2 linked regions of the Homo sapiens genome follow. The protein of the gene in region 2 purifies or fractionates together with the protein of the main gene of each other region. This does not show direct contact. Each region holds a gene or a part of one and is shown on either strand. Other genes may lie near its edges.

Region 1 (2,875 bases), on a different chromosome or scaffold from region 2:
TTTTTAGTAGAGACAGGGTTTCTCCATGTTGGTCAGGCTGGTCTCAAACTCCTGACCTCAGGTGATCCGCCCACCTCGGCCTCCCACAGTGCTGGAATTACAGGTGTGAGCCACCAGCCTGACAGGATGGAACTTTAAGTAAGAGAATCACCTTAAGAATCACCCCTAGTGATTCTGTTCTTACTGAAAATGGCTCTCCCCAGTTGAGGTCTCTGAAATGCCCCATTAGTTGAGAATCATTGCTGTAGGGAGACATGTTCTTCAGGTACTGTATCATATCCCTCAGGTGTGTTGTGGTAGAGTAGATTTGAGAACATAACTTTGACTATAAACTCTCCAAGAGCAAGGGCCATGTAATTAATTGCTTTTTTATTTCCCCAATTTTTTTTTTTTGAGACAAGAGTCTCACTCTGTTGCCCAGGCTGGAGTGCAGTGGTGCAATCTCAGCTCACTGCAACCTCCACCTCCTAGGTTCAAACACTTCTCCTGCCTGCCTCCTGAGTAGCTGGGAGGGACTATAGGCGCCCGCCATCATGCCCAGCTAATTTTTGTATTTTTAGTAGAGACGGGGTTTCACCATATTGGTCAGGCTGGTCTCGAACTCCCGACCTCAGGTGATCCACCTGCCTCGGCTTCCCGAAGTGCTAGGATTACAGGCATGAGTCACTGTGCCCAGTCCTTTTTTTTTTTTTTTTTTTTTTCCTTTGAGTCAAGGTGTCACTCTGTTGTCCAGGCTGGAATGCAGTGGTAGGATCTCAGCTCACTGCAGCCATGAACTCCCAGGTTCAATTGATCCTCCCACCTCAGCCTCCTGAGTAGAGGGGACTACAGGCATGTACCACCATGCCTGGTTAATGTTTGTATTATTTGCAGAGACGGGGTTTTGCCGTGTTGCCCATGCTGAACAATATTTTTTTTCTTTTTTGAGACAGGGTCTTATTCTGTCACCCAGGCTGGAGTACACTGGTGCAAACACAGCACACTGCAGCCTCAGTCTCCCCTGGGCTCAAGTGATGCTCCCACCTCAGCCTCGTGAGTCGCTAGCACTACAGACACATATTACGAAGCCTGGCTAATTATTTTTATTTTTTGTAGAAACAGGGTTTTGCCATGTTGCCTAGGCTGGTCTCAAACTCCTGGGCTCAATCTGCTCACCTTGGGCTCCCAGGGTGGTGGGATTACAGGCATGAGCCACTGCACCCGGCCCACAGATTCTTATTGAGGCCTTTGTAAGTAGGCAGTTAATGCTCTATTGCCACCATTTCCCACTGTATTTTTTATAAATACCAATTGTTTGGTCAATCGACTTCTATTTATGAAACTGGAAAAGAATAATGATGATCCCAAATGTCTAACCTCATTGCTTGCCTTTATACAGAATCCTCACTATGGATGGGCTCATTGAGGACATTAAGCATCGGCGGTATTATGAGAAGCCATGCTGCCGGCGACAGAGGGAAAGCTATGAAAGGTGCCGGCGGATCTACAACATGGAAATGGCTCGCAAGATCAACTTCTTGATGCGAAAGAATCGGGCAGATCCGTGGCAGGGCTGCTGAGGCCTGTGGGTGGGACACCCAGTGCGAAACCCTCATCCAGTTTTCTCTCCATCTCTTTTCTTTGTACAATCCCATTTCCTATTACCATTCTCTGCAATAAACTCAAATCACATGTCTGCAAGAAGGCCTCCAAATATAGAAACAATCCCATTAGTCAGCAGTGGACCCTGTCTTTTATTAAGTGAAAGAAGAAACTGAGTCTGAAAGTACTCTAGGAGTAGAATGGTATTTGCCAGGGACTGGAGGAGGGGGCAGTGAGGAGTTATTGTTTAATGGGTACAGAGTTTCAGTTTGGGCAGATGAAAAAGTTCAGGAGACGATGGCCTGGCATGGTGGCTCACGCCTGTTATCCCAACACTTTGGGAGGCTGAGGCGGGCGGCTCACTTGAGGCCAGGAGTTTGAGACCAGCTTGGCCAATGTGGTGAAACCCCATCTCTACTAAAAATACAAAAAAAAATTGGCCGGGCGTGGTGGTGCACGCCTGTAATCCCAGATACTTGGGTGGCTGAGGCAGGAGAATTGCTTGAACTGGGGAGGAAGAGGTTGCAGTGAGCCAAGATCATGCCACTGCACTCCAACCTGGGCGACAGAGTGAGACTCCATCTCAAAACAAAAAAACGGAGATGGATGATGAATGGTGATGGCGGTTGCTCAAAAAGTTGAATGTACTTAATGCCACTGAACTATACCCTTAAATGGTCACGATGGTAAATTTTGTGTTTTACTACAATAAAAACTTTTTTGAAAGTCCAGGAGAAGTAAGGAATTTTTTTTTCTTTTTTTTAAGAGGAAGTCTCGCTCTTGTCCCCCAGACTGGAGTGCAATGGTGCAGTCTAGGCTCACTGCAACCTCCGCCTCCTGGGTTCAAGTGATTCTCCTGCCTCAGCCTCCCCAGAAGCTGGGACTACAGGCACCTGCCACCACGCCCAGCTAATTTTTGTATTTTTAGTAGAGACGGGGTTTCACCATGTTGTCCAGGCTGGTCTCGAACTCCTGACCTCAGGTGATCCGCCCACCTCGGCCTCCCAAAGTGCTGGGATTATGGGCATGAGCCACCATACCTGGCTGGTAAATTTTTTTTTTTTTTTTGTAGATGGAGTCTCGCTCTGTTGCCCAGGCTGGAGGGCAGTGGGACAATCTCAGCTCACTGCAAGCTCCGCCGCCTGGGTTCACGCCATTCTCCTGCCTCAGCCTCCCCAGCAGCTGGGACTACAGGCACACGCCGCCACGCCCGGCTAATTTTTGTGTTTTTAGTAGAGATGGGGTTTATCTGTGTTAGCCAGGATAGTCTCGATCTCCTGGTCTCGTGATCCCC
Region 2 (3,565 bases):
AAGATTGTTTAAAGTCTTGAAAGACCACAAGCTAAATCTAAACTTCTTAACATGGCACATAAAAGCCTTTGAACTTTGGAACAATATACACTTTTCTACTCTCATGTATGACTAACTACTTCCCAAACATCTTTTGTTAAGATGTTTTTAACAAATCTTATTGTGAATGTTTAATTTTTAAAACTCTTCATAATTGGGATATAAACGATTTTCATAAGAAATGGGCATTCATATTTTACAGGAACACATATACATTCTAACTCTATTAAAGAAAGAAGAAATATAAGTACCACTGGGCATAAAATAGAACACATTTAAAAATAAAAGTGTCACAGTAACCATCTCATTAAAAACAAAAACGAAAAAAAAAAAACTTGAAATCTCCCAGAGGGAGAATATGTTGACTATTTTAATGAAGATAATTTTTGTAACAAAACATTTTTCTTTAAACAGTAACAAACCAAACAGATCCTCTACAGGCTATTAAAAGTTGTATGATTTGTTATTTTCCATAATAAAAGATAGGAGGAAATGGTAATTTCGGTAGGAAGTAGGCCTTAGGAATTACTAACCACCACAATGCATTTGGATAAGAATGAAAACAACTTTATCCATAGTTTGCAGTAATTAGGGTAAATCTTACCCACTCGTATAAGCAATTTTCCATTTTCCATTTACTTCACGGAACCACCATAGTATTCTGTCCTCTTAAGAAATGTTTGTGAAACGCCAAGGGTCAAGCACAGTGCTTGGTTCACAGAAAGGGGTTCAATATTTTTGAATGAACAAATTACTGAGCGAATGAACACAATGGGCTCTCAAACCCTCCCCTACTCCCTCTTAGGTATGCTATTATGTCCATTATGTGCTTTGGCACCTCTCCATGTCAATCATGATGTATTTCCTTTCCTTTATCCCTAGAAAGGCCCTGGTTATTCTTTCTTCCTTTAGAGATCTAGAATCTATAATTACCCTGATCTTGCTTGGAACTCCTCATTAAACAATAAAGGACACCCTTTTCCCTTGGGCCTTCCTCATGTCTCTAACATGCCTCTCCTGAAGCAGAGATTGAATCTAGTTGAACACGTTGTAAGATAAAGCTCCTGAAAGCAGTTTCTGCCTCCGGGTTATTTGAATTTCTCACCCCCATCCCTACTTAACAAGTAATTTTGTTCCAAAACATTTATCATCAGTGTCACATCAACAAATTTACACATCAATCTACCGCAGCTAACTTCGTAACAATGGGAGAAACATTCAGAATAATACTGAGCATCCTACCAAGGGTCTGAAAAATTGAATTCAAATACTCTGTGTGTAAAATGCCTAGACTCTGTCATTCCAGCACATCTATGATCTGATCTAGCAAGTATATCGTTAGACTACAAATTACCTTTTTCCTATGACGTGTAAAACTCCATTAAAAATGAATTCTTCCTAATAAAGTTTTTTATGGCGTCTAAAATTGCTGTGAATGTTACACCTTTTACAATCACCTTTTAGCCAGAAAGCCATTATTTGTAGAATCCTCCTGTATTTCAGTTATTTGTCACCTATTTAGGCTGGGCCTAATAGCAAAACTGTCCCCCGTTACTGAATTCAGAGAATTATTCGGGCACACGATTTATTTCCTATCTTGATTAGACTCCTGAGCCCGTGCCCCAGCCTCTCGCTAATCTCCCTGGACCAGACAACTCCATTAGAATCTGGCACCCACGTTTGTTCTGCCTAACACTGCAGGAAGGACAGAGACTTCAAAGCACGTGTTTGTTTTTTTGTTTTGTTTTTGGCTACCAAGAAGCCAAATTTCTGTATCCTCTACCATTCAAAACCCCAATTCAACAAATTTACACGGGGGTTTTTCCTCCACGTTAAGCAGTTAGTCGGGTACTAGAGATACACATATAAAACACAGACTCTGCCCTCAAACAACCCAATGAGCAGAAAATTCTCTTAGGCACCAAAACGCTGTAATAGATTCAAGTGTGTAGAGGAGAAGTTTGGTAGAGTGGATATGACGCTTTCTTTCTTTGTAGTACAGAAAAGATAAATCTGTAGAAAAGGGAGAAAGACAACTGGGTAGAAAATTTATTTCAAATATCTAACCCAAATCTTCAACAGATTTTCCATTTTAAATATTCCAAAAAGTGTACCATTGTATATTATACTAAATGCAGGTTCATTTATCACTTAAAAATTTTTAAGCTAAAAAATCTCAAACAATTAACATTTGGGAAGAAAAACAGGACTGATACACAAAGTAGTCAAAATATTTCAGCTTTCTAAACTGTATGCACTGGACTAACTGTTCAATATTAGAATATCTCTACATTTGAATTTGGATAGCCCACAGTGATAAATACTGGACTGAAAAATCTGACATCGAACATATGCAAAACTAATGGCTACTATGAAAAAAGATAGAATGGGGAGAGAAAACTTGAATGTGCCAAAACATTTAAACGCTCTTTAAAATATCCTGAGATGCTAAATTAAGGACAAAACGATTAGAGTTCCAAGAATACAAATTTTCATCTCTTTCAAGATTCAACTGAATATTGAATCTCATTGAGATTATGAAATATTCTCTAAGCATGTGCTTAACTTCTATTTGGCTTTCCGCATTTCACCACAGTGAACAGCCCATTCTTTTTCCTTGTTTACACCAAATGCTCGTTTTGAACACAACTCAAAATGGAATTCCAGGCCCAAAAGTCACCACCCCTACTTTCACCCCCACAGGCAGCTACTTAACAGATAAGGAATTCAAGTGCAGGACCTGAAGGTCTTATTTCCATGCAAATTTCACAATCCCCGTTACTTGCCCAGATACAACAATTAAAGCTTAAAAGGTGGCGGGAGTGGGGGACTTGAGGACTGGTCTGAGGAGAAAGTGAATCTCCCAAGGGTTCCTAAATGGTTTTGCTTCCAGTATAAAAACTGCGAGCTACCAGTAGAATTTAACAACAGCTCAACCTTGCATTTGGAACAGTTACTATATAGTTCACTTTCTTTTTTCATGGGGGCGGGGTATGGTGTCTTACCTACTCTTAAATTTGAACGTATTAACAGGTTCCCCTCCGCGCACACTGACATATTTCTTATCCCCCATAATGAATTCAGCCATATGGCATTCTTTCCCATCGAAGGCCATCGGGAATGGCTTTAGGAAGCTGATTTTCAAGCTTTAAGCGGCAGCAGGTGCCGGCAGCGCGGGGACCGATCGATGGAGAGAAGGCGGGCAAGACGCCGGGAAGCGCATTCCTCCTCAACCGAGTGCCACAACCGCCCTCCCGAAGTGCCCCGGGGCTTCGAGCATCACCTCGCGGTAATCCGGGAGGGTGGAGGGATGCGGCTGGACCCGGGCGTTGCGTGCTCCACACAGCGCCCAGCCCGTGCCAGCCCCGCGCCCACCTCTCCACGACGCTCGTGCCGGGATCAGCGCGAAGCCCCTTCCAGTCCCCGAAGCCCTCGCCCGCGCCCGTTCTCCCCCAGCTCGCCCCCTCCAGCCCGCTGCGCCTTGCCGCAGCATCTCCGGGCACTCTGAGGCTGCCGCCGGGACAGG

What was found. The genes of interacting proteins can lie anywhere in the genome.
Region 1: the proteins of USP44 (region 2) and MRPS21 purify together in Homo sapiens (affinity purification with mass spectrometry; one large-scale study listed by BioGRID and IntAct). This does not show direct contact.

Annotation. Positions count from the first base shown.
Region 1 is NC_000001.11:150,306,670-150,309,544, forward strand, and holds the end of MRPS21 (small ribosomal subunit protein bS21m), read left to right. Parts: intron 1-1,378; coding exon 1,379-1,559; 3' UTR 1,560-2,310; downstream 2,311-2,875.
Region 2 is NC_000012.12:95,544,939-95,548,503, forward strand, and holds part of USP44 (ubiquitin carboxyl-terminal hydrolase 44), read right to left. Parts: intron 3,301-3,565; exon of another isoform or gene 3,045-3,300; intron 1-3,044.